Homo sapiens: one gene and its partner. The protein of the gene in region 1 interacts with the protein of each later gene in a biochemical or structural test. Each region holds a gene or a part of one and is shown on either strand. Other genes may lie near its edges.

Evidence for each region.
Region 2: of the proteins of ASB2 (region 1) and FLNB, one has a biochemical effect on the other in vitro, tested with the Homo sapiens proteins (one study listed by BioGRID).

The regions. Positions count from the first base shown.
Region 1 is NC_000014.9:93,938,571-93,946,728, reverse strand, and holds part of ASB2 (ankyrin repeat and SOCS box protein 2), read left to right. Parts: intron 1-7,056; coding exon 7,057-7,621; intron 7,622-8,158. UniProt on the Homo sapiens protein: Substrate-recognition component of a SCF-like ECS (Elongin-Cullin-SOCS-box protein) E3 ubiquitin-protein ligase complex which mediates the ubiquitination and subsequent proteasomal degradation of target proteins.
Region 2 is NC_000003.12:57,998,305-58,015,463, reverse strand, and holds the start of FLNB (filamin-B), read right to left. Parts: upstream 7,043-17,159; 5' UTR 6,900-7,042; coding exon 6,608-6,899; intron 1-6,607. UniProt on the Homo sapiens protein: Connects cell membrane constituents to the actin cytoskeleton. May promote orthogonal branching of actin filaments and links actin filaments to membrane glycoproteins. Anchors various transmembrane proteins to the actin cytoskeleton.

The DNA of each region.
Region 1 (8,158 bases):
GTTCCCAAGGAGCAATCTGGAGGAAGGGAAGAAGCACAGACATGTGAATTCATGACATCATGAAAGAGCATGCCGAAGAGCTGCATGGCTCCTGTGGAGACAGACGAGCCGGGGCTAGAGGCAGAGGTGTGCTAGAGCCAGCTCGTGCCTGTTCTCAGGAACCGACTGCACACCTCTTCCCAACTCTGTGTTTACTGACCTCACATTGATAGCTTAAAATTGGCCATGGGGGAATATTTACATGGGGAAATAGGCAAATGCTACAAACCAGAGTCCTTTCCCCCTTCTCTGCCCTTGCTTGAGCCAGTTTTTAAGCATTCCCAGCAGCACTGCTACATGGGGAAGCCTGGGCCGCAGAGGTGAAGCTCCAGCTGCCCTTGAAGGATGGACAGGGCTTGGTCATTTCCAGAGTGTGACTCATCTGCCTCCCATGTGAGCCTCACACTGTGCTGCGGGTATGCGGGTCAACCCGGATTTTCATTTTACAGGACAGGAAACGAAGACTCTGGTAGTTAAGAGATTTGCCCCTTGAAAGCCCCGTCCCCAGGGCTAGGACTTAAACCCCAGCATCTGACCCTTTTTGCTGGACAGTGCTTCCCAAACTGTCCATTCACAGATTTTCTTCCTGATTTTAAATATCTATACTCTCATCGTTTAGTAATTTTTCCTTTAAATAATGTTTTTACTTACAATGAATTTATTTTGAAGAGGAAACATTTATCACACTAGTATGTTATCCATTTACAATCAATTTTAAAAACATTTCATTTAAAATCCCATCTCATGTACCCTGATGACACTTGGGGAAACACACCCGAATCTTCCAGACAGGCAGGAGAGTGAGAAGCACAGACTGCGTGTATTGGGGCATGTTTGTTGTCTTCACTAAGGCAGAGGGAAATGGGGTCAAAGTGACATTCCAAAGACTGAAATGAAGACTCAAGGCTTCAGAGCCGCCCCTTAAAGCTCCAGCCCCTTCTGTGCAGGTTGCCTGCACCAAGACCACCCAAAGATGCCCTCCCCACTCCCCACACCCCCCAGTACATACACAGAGGAGACCCAGCCTTTTCTGGACAGCACAGCTGTCCACAAGGCTGACAGATCTGGGTGTGAATCCCTGCTGAGGCCATTGGGAAAGTTGCTTAACCTTGCTGAGCCTCATTTTCCTCATTTATAAAATGGGAAATGGTTACACCCGCCTCATGGGGTTGTCGGAGGACCAGTAAAATGGATACGTACGGATATAGAATGGAAAAAAGCACCTAGCAGAGCGCCTGCACCCAGTGTGTGCTCAGGCGTCCTATGCTCACCCACTCTTACTTAGGGAGAGTGCATTCCATGATTGAGCGGTTCAGACAGCAGCTCAAGCCAGGCAGTGGGCATGGACAAGACGGCTCCTTTCTCTTGAGTTCCACAAATCATCGGGCATCAGTCAGAGTTGGGCAAACACAGTTTACCTTGAGCCTGACCCCAGAGAGATCCAGAGTGAACACACGGGAAGTGGGTGCACTTTGGAAATCTCCTGGCCCACTGCCCCCCAATTCTAGCCTGCACATCCATGTCCCTCTGGGCTATTTTTAAAATGCCATATCAGATCCGGTGAATCAGAATCTCCAGGAGAGAAGGAGCCCCACTGTCTCTTTGAAAAGCTCCCTGAGCAAATCAGATACAGCCTGTCTATAGCTGCAGGGACCATTGATCTAATTCAGGCCCTGGTTTTACAGAGAAGGAAGCCAAGGTCAGATATGGAAGTGATTTTTGAGATAGCGGCAGGGCTGGGACCTTCATCTGGGCTGCCTTCAAGTGAACCCAGAGGTGTTGGCAGTCTGGCCCCAGCTGGAGGAGAAGCTGAAGGGGCACTAGGTGGCCTTGCGGATGATCAGAGAGTAAGGCGCGTCCTGCCTGGAACACTGTGTCCATGGCTGATGTTCCTGTAAACTCATCTACCTTGGATTCACGTGGATTCCCAGGGCGAATTCCCTGGTTATTCAACCTCCACCCCCGGGCCCCATTTCCCTCTGTCCCCCAAGGCTCAGAGGGGCCTGGGCCACTTTTTAGGGCTAAGCAACAAAGGGTTAAAGCCTGGTTCCCAGCAGCTTCTGCCACCAGGCAGAGCCCATGGCCAGCAAGCCCCGAGCTCATCACTCCCTCCCTGGGCATACAGCATTAAAGGCCCTCTGCTCGGGGATTTGATGTGACATTCCATAGGCATTCCACACTCTGCCACCTGCCAACACACCCTGGCCATCCGTCCCAGGCATGGAAGGCAGCACCAGGAGCCGAAGGCTGTTTGCCAGATGGTGTCTTCTCGTCAGCACACTTAACCGCAAGGGGTGACATGCGGGTGTGCTGAGAAAGGAGCCCTAAAGTCCCGATGTCGCAGTCACCTCCAAGACACGCATTTTCCTGTTGTTCATTTCCAGTTTAGCAAAGCCACCGTATGAAATCAAAGATCAACACCAAAGATAGACGTATTAAGAAACTGTGTGAGTTAGCGCAGAGCAGATGCCCCAAGAATAGCACCCAAAACAGTAGTGTCCAACCTTGGCTGCACCAGAAACCCTGATGCCTGGGCCCCACCTGACGAGATGGCGCTGCCGCTGGTCTGGGCCGTGGCTGAGGCTTCAAGGTGTCTAAGAGCTGCCCGGGAGATTTTACTGTGCAGCCTGGGTAGAGAATCAGGATCTTAGAGCCTCTTCTGTGGCCAACAGAAAACACAGACTTGCATTCTGGGCCTTACTTCTGCCTCCCTCGTTTTTAAATATTCCTTCTCTTTTAGTTCCAACATATAACACTTTTGCTGTATTTTATCAATCTTTGCAAGCCACTTGAAATTCTTCCTAGAATAAGGCAAAATAGAGAACACTTAACACATTAAATTAAAAAGCAGCTTATAAAGCACACTGACAAGCAAGTTAATATCCCCATTAGTTAAAAGAGAAACTGAGGCTCAGAGCTCAAGACTTCATAGAAAACAAGTCAGGGTGGCACAGTGAAGCTCAGAAGTGTTGGCAATGGAGCCGTCTGTGGGCAACTGGTTCCCATGTCAATCCTCCAGCCAATGTTTTTGTTGTTGTTTGTTTGTTTTTGAGACCGACTCTCTGTCACCCAAGCTGGAGTGCAGTGGCACAATCTTGGCTCGCTGCAACCTCTGCCTCCTGGGTTCAAGTGATTCTCCTTCCTCAGCCTCCCAAGTAGCTGGGATTACAGGTGTCCACCACTGTGCCTGGCTAATTTTTGTATTTTAGTAGAGACCGGGTTTCATCATGTTGCCCGGGCTGGTCTCGAACTCCTGAGCTCAACTGATCCACCCGCCTCAGCCTCCCAAAGTGCTCCGATTACAGGCGTGAGCCACCGCGCCCGGCCCTCCATCCAAATTTACATTGAACACTGACAAGGGTCAAAGCACAGTGACCTGGTGATCCAGAATGCCTCTGTGTTTAGGGTAGCAGGGGCAGTAGGCTGCAGTTGTGGTGGTGGTCAAGATACCAAGAGCATTGTTCATTCACTGCCGACTACGGGCCAATCAGATTCATGGGAAAGATCTCATTTATACTCAGAAGCAGCCTTGGTGAAAGATCATTACATTGTGCTTTGTAACCTGGACCTGGGGTTGTAAGCAGTCCTACCTTGCCGGATTGTTATGAGTAAATGAGTAAATGAGATTAAGTTCTTAGCTCTGAGGGTCATGCTAGGATTAAATGAAGTAAACAAATGTGAGGACCACTTTAAATGGTACCTGGCACACAGTAAGCGCTCAGCAATATTAGCACAATTATGACTTAAGAAGGTAAGGGGTAAAGTGCTCACAGCAACCCACTGGAGCTCAATAAAGGGTAGCTATAGCTATCACCATCATCATCATCATCATCATCATCACTATTATTACAATTAATTACCCCTCTGCTTTAGGTGCGGTTCAGAGAGGTTAAGTGACATGCTTGCGCTGGCCCAGTGCTGAAGGGTAGAGCTGGTGTGTAACCCATGTACCCCTGACTCTGAGCCTCCCAGTTTCCCCACTGCCCATGCTGGGCCCCTCTCTAGCTAAGGACAGCTTGCGTTGGCTCAAAGCTCTCTGCCCATTCCCCTGCTGTTGGGCTAGATTCAGGAAGGACATCAGAGCCAGGGCCAGGTGGTATGGCAAGGCTGCTGCTCTGAGGAAACTAGAATCCTGGAGTGGGAGCCCAGACCTGGGGCAAGGATGTCAGGCTTCAGATACTGGTGGGTCCTAGGAACAAGACAAGAGCCCAGTGATTCGGAATGAGGTCCAAGGTCAGAGACAGCTCAGCACCTGCCACACTGCTGCACTGGGTCTTCCTGGAATGACCCTGAGCTGGATCTGCTCCGGTCTCAGGGCCCAGACAGGAAAGGCTAAGCTGGTAGTTGTGGCCTCTGCATTGGGGAGGGGACAAGGAAGGGGTAGGGGGCCATTCTTCCAGACACCTACGGCTCTATCAGACAATAGTCACCTTTGTTCCTCTTCATGAGGTGCCGCTTGAGCAATTATACTCTGAGAATCCAAAACGTGCCTGTGGGAGAAGTGGGAAGAGTCAGACTGTTTGGTGGGGTCACCCCCTTGTCCTCCTGTCCTCTGCCCCACAAAATGGGCTGGGAAGAGGAGTGATGATGTGCAGTGGGGCTACCAACGTGGCCGCTCCCATAGTTGGGAGGAGAGGGGCATCGTAGAAGGCTTGGCCCTGGACATCCAGAGACCTGTATTTTGCTCTTGTGCACCACCCACCTTCTGTCCAACCTCACTCTGTTCCCCACCCCAAGCCTGGGCTTCAGGTTTACTCTGTGTAAAATGGGAAAGCTGGACGCACTGATCTCCAGAGCCTGTCCGGCGTTACACATTCACTTTCTGATTGGCAGAGTCCTGCCGCAGTAAGATGATTCACCACATAACTGAGACAATGCTCAAGTTCCCACATTTCTGCCACTTTCCCTTGGTTCGTGGAGAACTGCCGGAGACCAGCTGTGACCTGCCAGAGATACCAGCCCCATCTGTCCAGCGGCCCCGGGGCAGCCCCTCTCACTGTTCTTTCCCGTTCTTGGGCACGTTACAGCTGTTAGCAGAGCATTTGTTGGCCGTGGCCGCCATCCAGGGTGAGGCCCAGGCCTGCCTTTGACCAGCACCTCTGCAGAGCAAAGTCAGGCCTCCTGTGCCTACACAAATAGAAATTAGGAGGCAATTAGCCCCCCGGGTGTGTGAATTTCCTTTTGAGGTTTTAGAGTCAGATTTTAGCCAAACACAGCATCACTAACAATCATAATACTTTCCACTGAGATCCCAGCAGGAGGTCGCTGGCATCAGATTTCCAGGAAGCCTGTGTGCCAGGAGGCCAGAGGCGTGGGAATGGGCCTGGTGGCACCTGCTTCTCTCCCCTTCCCCCACCGCCCCACCCCCTGTAATGGCCACCTCCTTGGAGTCCCACAGGAGGCTGTGAGGTCACCTGTCAGCAGGGATTGGATGGATTAGGGTCTGGAATCATATTGGTGCAGGAGCTTGTTCTTGCAGGTGGCAGGGCTGTAGGAGAAGAGAGCCAAGAGAAGGGGTAAAGAGTCCTGGGGTTGAGCCCCCAGAATTGTCTTATGACCCCTGATTAGTCACTTCGGCTCTCTGAGCCACATCTGTTAAAAAGAAGGCCACAGGCCTGCTCCGGCCACTCCCACCCAGGGCTGAAGTGAAGGTAAAATGGGCAGGCAAGTTAACACATTATGAAGACTGCAAAACCCCGGGATATATTAACTGTCACCCTGACTGCTACACAAGAGGTAGGGGCATTGTTAAGAGTGTAGCTTTGGGGTCAGACTGCCTGGGTTCAAATCCTGGCTCCATCACTTACTGGCTGTGTATCCTTGGAGGAGTCACATACCTTCTCTGGGCTTATGTCTCCTCATCTCTGAAATGAGGATATTACAGTACTCACTTCAGAGGGCTACTGGGAGGATTTCACAGATGAATAGAGGTAAAGTGCTGAGATCAGTGCTCGTGTTTTAGGGAAGAGAGGAACTGGTGGTTGCAGGGAGCTCAGGCTTCCGCAGTGGCTGACCAAGTTCTCCACACCCAGAAGGTGAGGCAGAGAGACTGGGAGAAGCTAGCGTCAGCCTTCGGGGAGGAGGCGTTGAGACTGACAGGAGAGGAGTGTAAGTGACCTCATGGTCACAATGGGCTGGTTGGGGCCTGGGGCAGTAGTAGTTGGGGCCAAATTAGTTGGGGCCAAACACATTTGTCCCCTTTTGTCCTCAGGATCTCGTGGCTCCACTGGGGTCCCAGGACAGCAAGATAGGGACAGCTCAGCCCTGGAGTCAGAGGAGGGCACACACCCTGGTTCCCCTATTCTGACTGTATGACTGGGCAAGCCCCTTAATCTCTCAGAGTCTTGACTCTTCTCATCTGCAAAATGGGAATGATGAGCCTTGCTTTAGGGGTTATTGTAAAGATTAAACCCAATCGCACTTGTAAAGCCTTTAGGAGCCTCCTGGCACACGGTGGGCTCTGGGATCTGGCTGTCCCTGTCCGTCCTCCCCCAGAGAGAGCAGGGTCTGGCTCCAAACTTCGCCACTAGGCTCTACTGCCTCCTGCAGGGAGGAGGTTGGACATTCATTGGGTTTGGGGGCCTTCCAGGCAATTCCTCCAAATAACTGAGCTGGCAATGGGCAACAGCGCTTAGCCTGAAATAAATTAGTGGGAGCTTCTTGAAACCCTAGTGCAGTCTGGCTGAGGTTTTTAAGAACTCAGACTTCGGAGGCCAAGGGTTCTGGGTCTGAAGCCCAGCTCTGCCCCTTACTGGCTATGTGACTTTGGGAGGGTGGCTGAAGCTCTCTGAGCTTCAGTTTCCTTATCTGTAAAGCGGAGACGGCAGCCGACCCACCCTGCCCAGTGGGGTGAGAATGGTTGACCCGCGGCGCCCCCTGCCGGTGGGATCCGCGTCGCAGCCCGCGGTCAGGGCGACCAGCCGAGCCTGGCGCCCGAGCTCTCCTGCTGGCGGGGCCGGCCCTACCCGTCCACACCCCGACCCTCCCCTCACCCGCGCCCGCCCCTCGACCCGGCAGGATCGTGCAGATGCTGCTGCCGGTGACCAGCCGCACGCGCATACGCCGTAGCGGCGTCAGTCCGCTGCACCTGGCGGCCGAGCGCAACCACGACGAGGTGCTGGAGGCGCTGCTGAGCGCGCGCTTCGACGTGAACACGCCGCTGGCCCCCGAGCGCGCGCGCCTCTACGAAGACCGGCGCAGCTCCGCGCTGTACTTCGCGGTGGTCAACAACAACGTGTACGCCACCGAGCTGCTGCTGCAACACGGCGCCGACCCCAACCGCGACGTCATCAGCCCCTTGCTCGTGGCCATCCGCCACGGCTGCCTGCGCACAATGCAGCTGCTGCTGGACCACGGCGCGAACATCGACGCCTATATCGCCACGCACCCCACCGCCTTCCCCGCCACCATCATGTTCGCCATGAAGTGCCTGTCGCTGCTCAAGTTCCTCATGGACCTGGGCTGCGACGGCGAGCCCTGCTTCTCATGCCTCTACGGCAACGGCCCGCACCCGCCGGCCCCGCAGCCCTCCAGCAGGTTCAACGACGCGCCCGCGGCCGACAAGGAGCCCAGCGTGGTGCAGGTGGGCAGCGCACGCTGGCGGTGGGGAGCACGCCTTTTGGGTGTGGCCCAGGGACGCGCGCGCGCATGGGAGGCGGGCGGGGCCGGGTGGTTCGCGCTCCTTGGGAGCAGCGTGGACTAGTGATTAACACCCTTCGGGGGAAGTGGGGCCAGCTTTGGAGGCAGCAGAGCACGGTGGTTAACCTGCGTCCTGGGTAGCGTGGGTTAGCGCTTAGGGCGCTTTGGAGGGAGCTTTGGAGGGAACTAGGGGTTAGCTCACTTTGGAGGCAGCGGAACCGGTGGTTAGCACACTTAAGAGGCCGCAGAACTTAGTGGTGCATTGGAACGGTGAAATCCTTCTTGTGGTCCACTGCGTTGGGGAATTTAAGGAACCAATGATGGAGCGGAGAACTCTGCCAAACTAAGAGGCTCGTCACCTCCAGCAAACCTACACCTGGAATGCGATGTGAAACAAGCACGATCCGGAAAGGCATGTCAAGAGCAGGCTGGTGTAGGGTCAGGTCAGAAGCAGAAAGCCAGCGACCCAGAGGCAGGACAC
Region 2 (17,159 bases), on another chromosome or scaffold:
GAAAGGATCTTGGGAGACATCTTCATCAGACGTTCTGAACTTGGAGAAAGGGAACAGCTAACACACCAGATGACAGCAATAGGATTCCAAAAATATCTGGACTGGCCAGAGAATAGACAGAAGACAAGACAAAGTCCTGGACTTGGGTCCAAAAGCACAATATTCATAGTGATAATGACAACACTGTGCTATAACTTAACCTCATCAAATATAATGCTCCCAGCAACTCTAAGATAGCAACTATTTTGCTCTTGCATTTTATAGACAGGGAAGCAGGCACAGAAAGGTTAAAGCAGTGGACTAGAGTTGCACAGCTGGTATCAGGCAGAGTGCGGATTAGAATCCAGACAGTCTAGCTTCAGACCGAGGCCCTGAATCACTAGGCTACATCCAGTTTTGCCTAGGATATGCTACCTGGAAACTGATGTAGCAAAGTTGGCTGGGTCCGGTGGCTCACGCCTGTAATCCCAGCACTTTGGGAGGCCGAGGCAGGTGGATCACGAGGTTGGGAGTTCGAGACCAGCCTGACCAACAAGGTGAAACCCCATCTCTACTAAAAATACAAAAATTAGCCAGACATAGTGGCGCACGCCTGTAATCCCAGCTACTCAGGAGGCTGAGGCAGGAGAATTGCTTGACCCCGGGAGACAGAGGTTGCAGTGAGCCGAGATCACGCCACTGCACTCCAACCTGGGCGACAGAGCAAGACTCCATCTCAAAAAAAAAGAAAAAGAAAACGCAAGGTGACTGGCACCCTGACCATGGAGCTACTGGAGGCAGGGCCTAAAGGCTCCAGGCCCTGGGTATCTGCTCCCCTAAGGAGCAGGGCAGCCATCCTCAACTAAGCCAGCAGCCCACTCCATGGTACCTGCCTCACAGCACAAAACCAGGACCCAAGAGACACAATTTGGCTCCAAATCAAAGCCCTCCTTTAGCTCAGACTCTCCAAGAACGAAGGCGGCTGCCGACTGGCATGCTGGCTCCGCCGTTGCTGGGAGAACTCCACAGAGGCCCAACCACCATCTGGAAGTGATTTGGCCCAGAGATTCCTGAAAGGGGTGGGAGGCTGGAATGACCAGACGCCTGGAGCTCCCTGTCCAGCTTGGAAACAAAGCTGGTGTGAATGGGCCCTGGAGGCAGCCATAACATAGCAGGGGGCAGCCCCTTTCAAGGAGGTGACACCCTCTAGGCAGTCCATAGCCGTATTTTAGCAAGTAGGATCAACCTTAGCCAACCAAGCTGTTCTCCCCAGAGCGCGCTGATTTCAAATGCCCTTTCAGTGTGCAAACCTTTCCGGCATGACTTTTGAGATTATTAAACAGTGCCTTATTTAATTAACAGGCATTCACAGAGCACTTACTATGTACCATAAACTGTGCCAAGCACTTTAAAAATTATTAACTTGTTTAATCTTTATAACAGCCTTTTAAGAAGGTAGTTATTATCCCCATTTTAGTGATAAGGAAACCAAGGCACAGAAGTTTCTAATAGCTACTTAGTGGCAAGTGGGATTTGAACCAAGAATCCTTGCTCTTAACTACTACACAAGTGACATTGAATGCTAATGTGCCACCTTGTACATGGCCCACAACTTGTTATTAATAATTCTGACAAAGCATGCTACTTTGCTACTTTTTTTTGAGATGGAGTTTTGCTCCTGTTGCCCAAGCTGGAGTGCAATGGCATGATCTCAGCTCAACACAGCCTCTGCCCTTGGATTCAAGCTATTGTCCTGCCTCAGCCTCCCACGTAGCTGGGATTACAGGCATGCACCACCACGGCCATCTAATTTTGTATTTTTAGTAGAGATGGGGTTTCTCCATGTTGGTCAGGCTGGTCTCAAACTCCAGACCTCAGGTGATCCACCCACCTTGGCCTCCCAGGGTGCTGGGATTACAGGCATGAGCCACCACGTCCGGCCAACTTTGCTACTTTTTAAGCACTCTCTGTACTACCCAAAAGACATGCTGGCATCTGCTAGACATGCAAGAAAGAGCAGAACTTAAGGTTATTTGGAAATTATTTTGGTAGTAGTAGCACAAAAGGGAGAGGAAGGAAAAGGAGCTGACTGGACCAGTGACCCACCACCCTGGAAGCTGCCTAGTGACCCGAAGTCTTGGGAACACGCACCCTGCCTGCTCTGGCGCTGGCCTGGTTTAAGTCAGTCAAGTAAACTTTAGGGTTAGACCACATCCTCTGAAAAGGAAACAATTCCTTTCTCTAAAGGCCCAAAACAAAACACACCACCCAAACTTCTAGGCCTTGATCATCATTCTTGGGCTGAGAGACCCCTTTTCCTCCCAGCTGGCTGGACTGCCCCATGTCAGAAAGGTTTTTGGAAAAACAAGTAAATAAAACTGCCAACTCCTGGCAAACAGCTGGAATTAAAGACACTGAGTCCTCACTATGAACTGCCCATCACATAACAAGAAACGTAAGGAAATTTTCAACTTTTGGATGGCGCCTAGGGGCCTACCTTACAATGAACCACAAATGTGAATCAATAGCCAGGGTTGTCTTTCAGTGAATTCTAGGCAGAAAAGCCAGAGTCCTCTGGCAGCTGTTGAAACACCACCTATCTCAGAGCTGGAGGCATGTACACAATTCTAATGACTCCACAACTGTCTGGTCTTATCCAAAGCATACAAAACCCTGTATTCATTCAATGATACCTTCCCTGACGATGGAATAAAACATCATCCATTGGGTAGTAGGAAATCTCAACCAACCAACCAAAACACAATGAGGAAAACACAAGAGGCAAACTGATCCCACTTAATTCCCGGCTGACTCTCAACTTGTGAGACCTTCATCACAGCCCAGAGGATTCATCCTGCCAATCATGGAAGGCCCTGACATCCCTATTTTGTCCAAGGTCAGAGGTTCAGAGTGTGGGTATCCAGCCACCACCCTAACACCTAAGACTTGCAAACCTAGTGTTGCAGGGACCCTCTGATGTGGAGAGAAAAGCTGTATTTTACTCATCTCTGAAACTGGAAGGCAAGTCAGTTAAGGCTCCAATTCAACAGCTGGGCAGACCTGGGTTTCAGACACCATTTACTAGCTAGCTGGGTCACCTCCACAAGTGGCTTCACTCCTGTTTCCCATCTTTAAATAAAGATAATAATACTAACCATGGCAAGAGTATGATCAACCAAACAGAAACAAACAACCAGGCTGTTCTCCCCTAATTTTGAACGTCCCTTCGGTGTGCAAACCATTCGGGCATGACTTTTTTTTTTTTTTTTTTTTTTGAGTCAGAGTCTCGCTCTCCCAGGCTGGAGTGCAGTTACACAAAGACCTCGGCTCACTGCAACCTCCACCTCCCGGGTTCAAGCAATTCTCCTGCCTCAGCCTCCCGAGTAGCTGGGACTACAGGTGTGCACCACCATGCCCAGCTAATTTTTGTATTTTTAGTAGAGCTAGGGTTTCACCATGTTGTCCAGGCTGGTCTCGAACTCCTGACCTCAGGTGATCCACCCACCTTGGCCTCCTAAAGTGCTGGGATTACAGGCGTGAGCCACGGCATCCAGCCCTGGCATTACTTTTGAGATAATTATTAGACAGCACCTTATTTAATTAACAGGCGCCATTTTCTAAGCAACACATGCCCAGGACAGTGTTAAGCCCTGAACTCTCTAAGTGACTTGCAGAAGCAGATCATTAGAGATAGGGCAGTAGTTGCTGTCAATCAATGATTAGCATGAAAATTCAATGGGGTGATCAACAGAACACACTTAACACCCAGTAGGTGCCCCCAAATTGAAGCTAGTGTCATTGTCAGCACAATGTAACACAACCTAAGCAGTGAATATATGAACCTTAGTCCAAGCTGGAGGTAACTTTGCCTTGAAGGATGAAGGACCATTACCCACAACAGCCTCAAGAGCTTAGGGAAGAAGCCTCCTGCTTTATCCCCACAGCAGTCCTGGCACTTGCCAGGGCTCTCTGTGGTCTCCAGAGGCTGGAAAACCTGTTTGTTGCAAGATCTCTCGGGAGAGCAATTAGGCAGCCAATGATACAAGTCATAAATGTGGTCACACCCTTTAACCCAGGAATGTCACTCTGGGGAATATGATCCAAGAAATCATTAAAAAGGAAAAAAATAGAATGCAAGTTGTGGTAGGAACAGGAAGAAGCTGCCAACAGCCCACAGGCCCAGCACAGAGGAAGGGAAGCTAACTAACCCTGGAACGTCGGGACAATGGGAGTAGCTAGGGCCTGAGTGGATTCGAAAATAAAAGGAGGACCGGGCTGGGCGCGGTGGCTCAGGGCTGTAACCCCCGCACTTGGGAGGCCGAGGCGGGCATATCATGAGGTCAAGAGTTCGAGACCAGCCTGGCCAACATGGTGAAACCCCATCTCTACTAAGAATACAAAAATTAGCCGGGCGTGGTGGCATGTGCCTGTAATTCTAGCTACTCAGGAGGCTGAGGCAGAAGAATCGCTTGAACCCGGGAGGTGGAGGTTGCAGTGAGCAGAGATGGCACCATTGTACTCCAGCCTGGAGACAGAGCAAGGCTCCATCTCCAGGCGGGGCGGTGGTGGGGAGGGGGAGCAGGGAATCAGGAGAACCATGTAAAAAAATGTAGACAAAATCTAGAATGAGACCCACAGCCCCGGGCACTGATGAGAGACAGTGCTGGAAGTAGCTGCTGCCTCTGTAAACAGTGGGTAGATCAGGCAGTCTGTGATTTGCTAGTGCTGCGGTTTGGTTTGGTTTTGTTGTTGTTTTAGAGATTTCATGTCGTATTTGGATACTTCTGGTTTACTTTAAGTTTCTTTATTCAGTTAATTAAATAAATACACATTTTTAAAACAAAGAACAGATCCAAATTGAGCCCAGCTGGGCCTTGGGATTCTTCAGAGGGGAGGCTGGTTTCTGAATGGTAAAGAATTCCAGGAGATTCTGAGGTTCTCCCTCCCCAGTACAGGAGATGGACCCCAGAAAGAAGACAACAGCGTGCCATGCAGATTCTTCTGCAGGGAAGCCACCCTTGGGGAGGGGGAGGGCTGCTGGAGATCAGCTGGGTGGTGCGGCTGCCATCTGGGCCCAGGAAGCAGGAAGCAGCCTTACCTGCCAGGACAGGTGTGGGGGAAGGGAAGGGTGAGGCCCTAAGGCCCAGGGGAGGCTCAGCCTAGAGGGAATCCCTTTTCCACTGGAGAAAGTCCTGGCAGCCACACCCATCTCCCTTTCTTCCTGTCACTAGGGTCACTATAGTGACCTGGTTTCCTCAGGAAGAGACCCAAATCACAGGCCAGGGCCAGTCCCTGGTTCTCCTTAGGAAGAGATCCAGACCCAGAACCCTCCTCTGCCCCAACCCACACCCACCCACCCACATACACACACACACATACACACACCCATACACACGTGTAGGTGGATACACATTCTCTGCATACATTCCGTGTACATGCAAACTCTTTGCATATGCACATGCTATACACACATGCTATGTGTGTACACACGTTCTCTGCACAAACGCCCACATGCACACACACATCACAGCCCCTACCATCACAGCCCACACTATCAGTAGCCTTGTGGCCCTCTGGGAAGCCTCCAACTATCTCAGACCACAAGGGAGACTTCATCCTTATTCTTCCTCCCCAGACCAGAAGGCCCAGTCCAGCAAGAGACACCAATTCCCTCCCTCCTTTCAGGAAGACCCTGGTGTAGGTTTGGGAGAGGAGAGGAAAACAAAGCCTCCTTCTAACTGTTGCCCACTTCCTTCAGTTCTCAGCTGGGCCCTACTTGCTGACCTTGGACAGGTCAATTAACCCTCCGGACCCCCTTATCTGTAAAATGGGTCTAGCCTCACCCCAGATGGCAGGATGCGTAGGGACGGAGATAACTTAGAAGGCTGACGGTACACAGTGGACGCTAGTTGGGCTCCCTACAAGACAGCAATTACTGTTACCACCACCATCTCTAAATTATAACTTCGGCAGCAAGGAGTGGGTTCAACCTGCGGCGCGCGGCCAGAGCTGAGCTGGGAGCAGAGAGAGCGAGGACACACACCCGCGCCTACCCTTGCAACCTCGGGGCCCACACCCATTCCAGCGACGGCAGGGGAAGGTACCAGGTCTCTGTCTCCACCTGGGCAGGGAGGCCCCAGGCGCAGAGAACGGTTCCTCCTCAGGTCTCACGGCCCGGCCTCCGAGCCAACGCCCATTCAGCTGCCTCTGAGAGCACCAACCTGGGCGCAGCAGGGAGAGCACTCCGCGGAGCATCTGACCCTAGGGCCCGCCCCCGGGGACAGCGAACGAGGGTTTCTAGTCCCCTAGCTCCCATAGGGGCGCCCCAGGTGTAGAGAAATGCAACAACTCCACCTCTCCTCCTGTGACCCCAGCCCAAACCCTCAACCCTTAGCCAGCCAAAGGTGCACTGCTGGGGCGGATGGCGGGGAGCGATCACAACAGGTCCCATCCCAGGGGAAGACACCGGGGAGGGGGTCTAGGCCCCCTATAACCCACCCCTGGGGACGACTCCCCCTTATCTCCGAGGTGGGGGCGCGCTGCGGGAAATCCTCGCCCTCCGCAGGGGTGCACGCGCGGGGGCGGGTCGGCACCACAGTGGGCGCCTGGGCCCGGCCAGAGAACTCACCGATGGACACGAGCTTGATGCTCTCACGGTCCAGGAACTCGAGCGCCACGGACACATTCTCGAGCTGCATCTGGCGAAAGGTGGGCCGCTGATGGTACTTGCGGTACATGCGCTTCTGGCTGAGCACCTCGAGCAGCGCGATGAGCCGCAGCCCGTCGCTCAGGTCGGTCTGCAGGTTGCCGATGCGTTTGTTCACGCACTTGAGGTGCTCGTTGCACCAGCGTGTGAACGTGTTCTGCTGGATCTTCTTCCAAGGCGCGTCCTCAGCTAGATCCTTCTCGGTTACCGGCATCCTGGTGGCGGGGAGAGCGCAATGCGCAACGAGCTGCCGGGGACTGGTGTTTGGAGGCCCAAGGGCCGAAGGAGCGAGAACCGAAGCGGAGCGGGAGCGGGGTTCGAACTTGCTGCTACCGGAGCCACGGCCGGTGCTGCTCTGCGGCCGCCCGCCCCTGGCCGCGCGAGGCGCCTGGCCCCGCGCCTGCGCGCTGAGCCGCCCCGCCCCCAAGCCCCGCCCCGTCCCGACCCTCCCGCGGGAGTTCCTGGGCCACGCTCGCCTCCTGCCGCCTGCCGCAGGCACTGCGCCCCACTGCGTCCTGGGACCCGCGCTCGAAGCCCACCACCCCAGCAGGATGTAGGGCTGCCTGAATCACCCGGTCAGCCCCGGGGTGGGGGGACCCGCGGGGGCTGGGAGCCGGACAGAATGGGTCGGGCCTCAGTGGGACTTGCGGGAGGGGCGCGCGGGGCGGAGGTCTTCATCCACATATAGATTGAATAAAATTCAGTAAGGGCTTTTATTGAGCTCCGCCTGTGTACCAGCCATTCTTCTCAGAGCCTGCTAACCAGTAGTAAATCAGACAAACGTATTGCACAACCTCAAGGAGTTCACACAGCCTAATGGAAGAGAAAAGTGTAATTCCACCATAACCAACAGCCCAGTAGTGGTGGTAAAAATGAACAATAAGGCTTGTTGCATGTCTTAGTTTCCAGTTACTGCTGTAACAAGTTACCAAAACTTAGTGTCTTTGAAAACACACACCCACAAATGTATTATCCTTCAGTTCTGTAGGTTCGATGGCCCACACAGGTCTTGCTGAGCTAAAAACAAAGTGTTGGCAGGATGCATTCCCTTCTGGAGGCTGTAGGGAAGAATCTGTTTCCTTGTGTTTTCTAACTTCCAGAAGCTGCCTGCGCGCCTGACTCCTGCCCCTTTTCTCTGTGAAAGCCTGCAATGGGCTGGGCACAATGGCTCACACCTGTAATCCCAGCACTTTGGGAGGCCAAGGTGGGTGGATCACCTGAGGTCAGGAGTTCGAGACCAGCCTGGCCAACATGGTAAAACCCCATCTCTACTTAAAATACAAAAATTAGCCAGGTGTGGTGGCGCGTACCTGTAATCCCAGCTACTGGGAAGGCTGAGATAGGAGAATCGCTTGAACCTGGGAGGCAGAGGTTACAGTGAGCTGAGATGGTGCCATTGCACTCCAGCCTGGGCGACAGAGCAAAACTCCGTCTCAAAAAAAAAAAAAAAAAAAAAAAAAACAGAAAAGCAAGCCTGCAATGTCAGGTGGAGTCTCTCAGACCTCAGACAGTCCTCTCTCCATAGGCACATCTTCCTTTTTTTTTTTTTTCCTGCGATGGAGTCTTACTCCGTTGCCCAGGCTAGAGTCCAGTGGTGCAATCTCGGCTCACTGCAACCTCCTCCTCCTGGGTTCAAGCAATTCTCTTGCCTCAACCTCCTGAGTGGCTGGGATTACAGGCACCCGCCACCACGCTCCGCTAATTTTTGTATTTTTAATAGAGACGGGCTTTCACCATGTTGGCCAGGCTGGTCTTGAACTCCTGACCTCAAGCGATCCACCAGCCTCTGCCTCCCAAAGTGATGGGATTACAGGCATGAGCCACCTTGCCCAGCCTTTTTTTTGTCTCACTCCGTCTCCCAAACTGGAGTGCTATGACTCAATCTCGGCTCCCTGCAGCTTCAACCTCCCCACACCTGGCCCTTTTAAGGACTCTTAAGATGACATTGGGCCAGCTGGTTAGTCCAACATGATCTCCCTATTTTAAAATCAGCCGATTAAGAACCCTAATCCTGTTTGCAACCTTAATTCCCCTTTGCCATTTAAGGGAATGTTCACAGGTCCTGAGAGTTAGGATGTGAACGTCTTTGGGGGCTATTACTCTGCCTACCACAGCATACATTGAGCACTTACTCTGTACTCATCCAGGTTCTGTGCTAGGTTCTGAGATATGGCAGAGTCTCAGGCCAGCCCTCTGTTGATAAAAGCCTGAATAATTACAACAGCAAGCATTGAATGAACACCTGCTGTTCCTCTGTGCCAAGCACAGTGCAAAGCAATTTCTTTCAAGTCGGGTGCAGTGGCTCACACCTGTAATCCCAGCACCTTGGGAGGCCAAGGTGGGCAGATCACCTGAGGTCAGGAGTTCGAGACCAGCCTGACCAACATGAAAAAACCCTAGCTCTACTAAAAATACAAAAAATTAGCTGGGCGTGGTGGCGCATGCCTGTAATCCCAGCTACTTGGGAGGCTGAGGCAGGAGAATCGCTTGAACCCAGGAGGCAGAGGTTGTGGTGAGCCAAGATTGCACTCCAGCCTGGGCAATAACAGTGAAACTCTGTCTCAAAAAAAAAAAAAGAAGAAATAACCGAGTGGTTGAGCGGCTTGCCCAGGCCACACAGCACAGTTAGAACCATAATGCAAGTCTGTAAGAGAGGCACAGGGTGCCCTGATACCAGAGAAGGGGCTCCTAACCCGGTTTGGGAGAGGAGTTCAGAGCAGGCAAGCTTCTGAGGAAGAGAGGTTGACCAGGACAGAGGGCAAGGGCTTGCAACTTTGAGGGTTGCTCAAAAGAGGCCAGCCAGTTTATGGGTAGAACCATTCTGTAACAGGTTATTTGCATACAATCAATGCCAGAGTGCTTTGTTCAGACAGATGAACTGACTCACTGGAAATGGTCACAACAGCCTGGGGGAGAGAATATATTACCCGGCCCTGGCTCACAATAGGGACTCAGTAACTACACTCATGTGTTGCTTAACAACAGGAATGCTAGAGGATTTTGTCATGATAGGAACACCAGAGAGTGTGTTCACACAGACCTAGATGGTACAGGCGACCACACATCCAGGTTAGAGGGGATCACCTGTTGCCCCTGGGCTACAAACCTGTACAGCAAGTTACTATATTGATACTGTAGGCAATTGTTACAATAAGTATTTGTGAATCTAAACATTAAAAGGGTATAATAAAAATACGATATAAAAGATAAAATTGGGCGGGGCGTGGTGGCTCACACCTGTAATCCCAGCTCTTTGGGAGGCCAAGGCGGGTGGATCACTTGAGATCAGGAGTTCGAGACCAGCCTGACCAACATGGCAAAACTCGGTCTCTACTAAAAATACAAAAATTAGCCAGGCATGGTGGCAGGCGCCTGTAATCCCAGCTACTCGGGAGGCTTGGGTAGGAGAATTGCTTGAACCCAGGAGGCAGAGGTTACAGTGAGCCAAGATCGCACCACTGCGCTCCAGCCTGGAAGACAGAGAGAGACTCCATCTCAAAAATTAACTAACTAAATAAATAAATAAAAAGATAAAAATAGTCTACCTGTATGGGCACTTGCCATGAATGGAGCTTGCAGCACTGGAATTTGCTCTGGGTGAGTCAGTGAGTGAGTGGTACGTGACTGTGAAGGCCTAGGACATTACTGTGCACTACTGTAGACTTTATAAACACTGTACACTGAGGCTATACTAAGTTTATTTTTTTAATCTTTTTCTTCTGCAATAAGAAATTAACCTTAGAGGCCGGGCACGGTGGCTCACCCCTGTAATCCCAGCACTTTAGGAGGCTGAGGCGGGTGGATCACGAGGTCAAGAGATCAAGACCATCCTGGCCAACGTGGTGAAACCCTGTCTCTACTGAAAATACAAAAACTAGCTGGGTGGGGTGGCACGCACCTGTAGTCCCAGCTACTCGGAAGGCTGAGGCAGGAGAGTTGCTTGAATCCGGGAGGTGGAGGTTACAGTGAGCCGAGATCGCGCCACTGCACTCCAACCTGCCAATAGAGTGAGACTCCGTCTCAAAAAAAAAAAAAAAAGAAAAAAGAAAAATAAAAAAGAAATTAACCTTAGCTTACTGTAATTTTTTAATTTTATATATTTTTTAATTCTTTGACTTTTTGGCTTTTGTAATAACAGCTTAAAACACAAACACATTATAAGCTGTACAAAAATTCTTTCTTTCTTTAAATCCTTATTCTGTAAGCTTTTTTCTGTATTTAAAACTTTTTATTGGCCAGGCACGGTGGGTTACGCCTCTAATCCCAGCACTTTGGGAGGCTGAGGTAGGCGGATCACCTGAGGTCAGGAGTTCGAGACCAGCCTGGCCAACACGGTGGAACCCCATCTCTACAAAAATACAAAAAAAATTAGTGGGGCATGATGGCGAGTGCCTGTAATCTCAGCTACTTGGGAGGCTGAGGCGGGAGAATGGTTTGAACCCAGGAGGCAGAGGTTGCAGTGAGCTAAGATGGTGCCGTTGCACTCCAGCCTGGGTGACAGAGCAAGACTCTGTCTAAAAAAAAAAAAAAAATATATATATATATATATATATATATACACACACACACATACATACATATATAAAACATACAATTATGTACAGTATATAATATTTGATAATAAACAAGTATGTTGGCTGGGCACAGTGGCTCACGCTTGTAATCCCAGCACTTTGGGAGGTCGAGGTGCACAGATCACCTGAGGCCAGGAGTTCGAGATCAGCCTGGTCCAACACGGTGAAATCCCATCTCTACTAAAAATTTTTAAAATTTTATTATCGACCTCCCTGGGCTCAGGTTATCTTCCCACTTCAGCCTCCTGAGTAGCTGGGACTATAGGGGCGCACCACCATGCCCAGCTAATTTTTGTATTTTTTGTAGAGACAGGGTTTCGCCATGTTGCCCAGGCTGGTCTAAAATTCCTGGGCTCAAGCAATCCTCCTGCCTCAGCCTCCCAAAGTGCTGGGATTACAGGCGTGAGCCACCACACCCAGGCAATAAAAAGTGTTTGTTTGTTTGTTTGTTTGTTTGTTTTATTTTTTTGAGATGGAGTTTCACTCTTGTTGCCCAGGCTGGAGTGCAGTGGTGCGATCTCAGCTCACTGCAACTTGTGGAGGTGGCCCTCCACAAGTGTGAGCCACCGCCCCCGGCCTGTGCTATATTTTTACTGGACTGCAGCACAGAAGGTTATGATTACACCAGCATCACCACAAACACAACAGTAATGTGTTGTGCTGTCTGTTGTTGACAGAAATGTCATTATGTACACATGACTATATTTGAATGCTTGTTCCCCTCATTAGTGATTAAGTGATAAGATTTGCTATTGGTCAGCTGGTAATGACTGGACAAAGCTGGACTTGAACCTGGGTCTAACTCCAAAGGCTGTATTTTGCCCAAGGGTCCCCGTGGTCTCCCCAAGCCTGGGACATGGTTTTGTCCATTCCGTGGGCCCCTGAGCAGCAGATTCACTCCAGGCAGAGTTGGTAACCTCTTCCTCCCCCACGACCAAGGCCCTCAGTTCCTCATACTTTCCTCCATTCGCACTCATCCATCAAAACTTATCAGCCAGTGTGACTCCCAGGGCCCTCCTCCCTGCTAGGTGAAATGAGCAAATGTGATCAACTCCGCCCAACAGCCACTAATGTGCTAAGGCTCCCCTCTAAGTGTCATTCAAAAAGTAAAAAGGTGCCAGGCACGGTGGCTCACACCTGTAATCCCAGCACTTTGCGAGGCCAAGGCAGGTGGATCACCTGAGGTCAGGAGTTCGAGACCAGCCTGGCCGACATGGTGAAATCCCATCTCTACTAAAAATACAAAAATTAGCCGGGCATGGTGGTGCATGCCTGTAACCCCAGCTACTCCGGAGACTGAGGCAGGAGAATCACTTGAACCCAGGAGGCTGTGGTTGCGGTGAGCCGAGACTGCGCCATCGCACCCTGGGTGGCAGAGCAAGACTCCATCTCAAAAAAAGAAAAAAAAAGTAAAAAGAAACAGGTAAAATTAATGACAATTATATACTTAACCCGATAGTAGGGTGACCAAATGACCAGGTTTGCCCAGGACTAAGGTATCTCCTGGGATGCAGACCTATCAGTGTTGCAACCAGTAAAGTCCCTGACAAACCAGAACAAGCTGATCGCCCTACCCAGAAGATCTAAAATGCTATCATTTCAAAATGCAATTGATATTTTAAAGTATTTTTATATTTTTACTTTGTTTGGGTACTGTCTTTGAAATCCAATATGTATTTCATACTTAAAAAACATCTCAGCTTAGACTGGCACATTTCAAGTGCTCAACAGCCACCTTTGGCTACTGGTGGCTTTCCTGTGGGTCAGTGCAGGAGTAGAGATAGGCTTGATGTTGAAATAAACCAGTGAATAAGTTGGCAACCCATAGTGGTCTCACCAAGATCCTAACCTTGGGACCTCCATTTCTTTCTTTCTTTTTTTTCTTTTATTTATTTATTTATTTTTTAATCTGTTTTTTTAAAACAGAATTTCACTCTTTTTGCCCAGGCTGGAGTGCAATGGCATGATCTCAGCTCACCTCCGCCTTCCAGGTTCAAGCAATTCTGCCTCAGGCCCCCCAAGTAGCTGGAATTACAGGTATGTGCCACCACACCGAGTTACTTTTTTTTTTTTTTTTTGAGACGGAATCTCTCTCAGTCCCCTAGGCTGCAGTGCAGTGGCATGATCTCCGCTCACTGCAACCACTGTCTCCTGGGTTCAAGCGATTATCCTGTCTCAGCCTCCCGAGTAGCTGGGATTACAGGCACCTGCCATCATGCCCGGCTAATTTTTGTATTTTAGTAGAGACAGGGTTTCACCCTGTTGGCTAGGCTGGTCTTGAACTCCTGACCTCACATGATCTGCCCTCCTCAGCCTACCAAAGTGCTAAGATTACAGGCATGAGCCACCGCGCCCAGCCTAATTTTGTATTTTTGGTAGAGACGGGGTTTCACCATGTTGGTCAGGCTGGTCTCGAACTCCTAACCTCAGGTGATCTACCTGCCTCGGCCTCCCAAAGTGCTGGGATTACAGGCATGAGCCACTGCACCTGGCATATTTATTTATTTATTATTTATTTTTAAGTTGCAGGGTACATATGCAGATGTGCAGGTTTGTTACATAGGTAAACATGTGCCATGATGGTTTGCTGCACCTATCAACCCATCACCTAGGTATTAAGCCCAGTATGCATTAGTTATTTTTCCTAATGCTTGGACTTCCATTTCTATATGTGAAACCCACTTGCACAATTCAGGAATCCCAGCTCTGTGAGAGGGGTCCCAGGTGAACCTTCATTCTGTGGTTTCTCAGTGTCCTGGGGTCCACTATTGTAGTCATTATATTAATGTCAGGATATTTGTAATAGTAAAAGTAGTGGTGGCCATAGTAATAGAAGCTTCCATTTCTGGAGTACTGATGTTATCTCATTTAGTCTTCACAAGAACCCTAGGAGGTGTTGTTATTATCCCCATTTTACAGGTAAGGCAACTGAGGCTGAAAGGGGTAGTCATATGCCTGAGATCACAGAGTGGCAGAGCGTGGATACTAAAAAAGTCCCCCGGGAACAGTTATGATTAACTGCAAGGACCTGGAGCTACCCAGAGTTTGTTTCCTTACAGGTAACCGCCATTGTTAACATGTCTTCCAGGAGTTTCTGATAAATGAGAAACTGGGGGCATAGCACTTAGCAAATAAGTATCAACTGAGGGAGTTAATACTGCTATTATCATGATCATCACTGCACCTTCATGACTGAACATCCAAAGAATGCAGGCTGAAGGTTCCAGATTTAGAAGCCCGCTTTCCAAAGGAAATAGAGATAGAGAGTCAGGACTTGCAAAATGAATTCATGTCCTCCCCAGGGTGGGGCCCCAGGAGTCCTCACCCCAGGGCGGGGGCCTTCTCAGTTGTAATTTTACACCAATGTCCACACCCTGCCACCAAGAAAGAGAAGCAAAATATAAAGAAGCATATTTCCTTTGCCTCCACCCTGAGAGGAAGGAGGAGCTGGTTTCTCAACAGCTCCCTAGACAGGTGGGTGTGCTCACCCCCCAGCCCCAGTCTGGCTGTGAAGGTCCTGAGACCATCTGGGTAGGGTGCTGGGAGGAAGCCCACTCAGGTGGGAAGAAGAGGAGGAGTGCTGAGAGGGCAGGCCTTCCCCACCAGGTAGCAAAAGATAATGGCATTTTGCAGTTCCAGATTCAAAATGGCGCCACCAGCCAGCCTTGACCTGAGATAAGGCAGGGGCTGCTGGCAGGCAGGCTGCTTGAAGAAGGCATGGGAGTCCGGCCGGGGGGCTCATCCTTGCAATCCCAGCCATTCGGGAGGCTGAGGTGGAAGGATTTCTTGAGCGCAGGAGTTGGAGACCAGCCTGGGCAACATAGTGAGACCCTGACTCAAAAAATAAAAAAGAAGGCACAGGCCTTCACTCCAACCCTCCCACTCTTAATCCAGCAGCCAAGGTGGAGATCAGAAGGGGCAGGGCAGAGCAATTTTCATGACAGCAATTCTCTACTGTCTGTTTATTCACACAGTGGGCTAAGTGATTGTATCTATAGTCTCTCCTTTGATCCTCACAGATGTAAGAAATGCCACACTAAGTATCTTAACATGGGTTATCTTTTTTCTTTTCTTTTTTCTTTTTTTTTTTTTTTTTTTTTTTGGAGACAGGGTCTCACTCCGTCACCAAGGCAGATTGCGAAGGTGTCATGGCAGCTCACTGCAGCCTGGACCTCCCAGGCTTAAGCGATCCTTCCACCTCAGCCTTGTGAGTAGCTGGGACCACAGGTGCACATCACCACCACGCCCAAATATTTGTATTTTTTGTAGAGATAGGGGTCTTTCCATGTTGCTCAGGCTGGTCTCAAACTCCTGGACTCAAGTGATCTGCCTGCCTCTGCCTCCCAATGTGTTGGGATTACATACGTGAGCCACCGCATCCTTTTTTAAATCTCAAGAATACTGTGTGTGTTACTGAGTGTGATACAATAGTCCCCCCTTATCTGTGACACACATGTTCTAAGACCTCCAGTGAATGCGTGAGGCTGCCCACAGTGCTGAATCCTATATTTCCCATGCTTTTTCAATCTGATAACTAAGAGGACCATGAGCAGGTGGCGTAGACAGCATGTGTACACACTGGACAAAGGGATGATTCACGTCCCAGGCAGGACAGGGTGGGACAGGGTGAGATTTTATCACGCTACTCAGAACGGTGTGCAATGTAAAACATGAATTCTTTCTGGAATTTTCCATGTTTTTTTTATTGTAGTTAGCTGTAGCAAACTGAAACCATGGAGAGTGAAACTGTGGACAAAGGAGAACTACTGTACTAACATTATCATCCCTGTAGCACAAGTTGGGAAACTGAGGCTCAAAGAGAAAGTCCCCTATGCAAGCTCCTGTGGGTATTAAGTGTCAGAATCTGAATTTGAACCCTAGTCTAACCGACTCTAGAAGCCAGCTCTGCATCTTGGAGATCTCTTCAATCCTTCAGAACACACAGCCCTAACTGCCCAAAGCACAGCTTACCTTTCTGTGGTAAGAGAATGAAGGCGGCAGCCACCCTTCACTCCACATCTGCGTGTTGTTCCTCAGCAGAGGTGGGGAATCAGGGCCTGCTAAGGGCCTCAACTTCCTCCCACTGGCCCTTCCCAGCCCAAGGTGGAACCCATGGCCAGAGCATGCCTCACACCCCACCTTAGTCTCACTAGAATCTCACATGTGCAATTTGCAAATGAGTGGGCTGTCTTCCTCCACCCAGTCTGACTTTCACTTCTTTAGAAGATTTTTGTGTGACTCTGTTTTATTTTGTTTTAACTGCAGACAAATGCCACAGAGCACTTTTCTGCTAAAGAAAACTGTCTAGCTACTGCTCACCTGGCAAAGCCAGTCTGCCTTCCAACTGGAACAGAGCTTCCCCTTTGCGAATGGCTTTACGCTGACAAAGCCCTTTTCTGTCCTTATCTCATCTACTCCTCCGCCAGCCAGAGTTAGCAGTATTATTCTCAGAGCGCCCGAGAACAGAGTGTTTATTCTTATCCCTATTATCTAAAAGAGTGGAGGCGTTTATGATCACTCATTGAATTGCTATGGAGTGGGGAGAGCTCGGAAAGGTGAAGTGACTTGCTCAAGGTCACACAGTGACAGCATCAGAACTCAACTTTTGCTTTTCTTTCTTTCTTTCTTCCTTTTCTTTCTCTCTTTCTTTCTTTGTCTCTTTCTTTCTTTTTCGTTCTTTTCCTTTCTCTTTTCTTTTCTTTCTCTTTCTCTTTCCTTCCTTTTCTTTCTCTTTTCTTTCTCTCTTTCTCTTTCTTTCTTTTCTTTCTTTCTCCTTCTTTTCTTTCTTCTTTCTTCCTCTTTCTTTCTTTCCTTTTTTTGTTGACAGGGTCTCTGTCACCCAGGTTGGAGTGCAGTGGTACGATCTTGGCTCACTGCAACCTCCACCTCGCAGGTCCAAG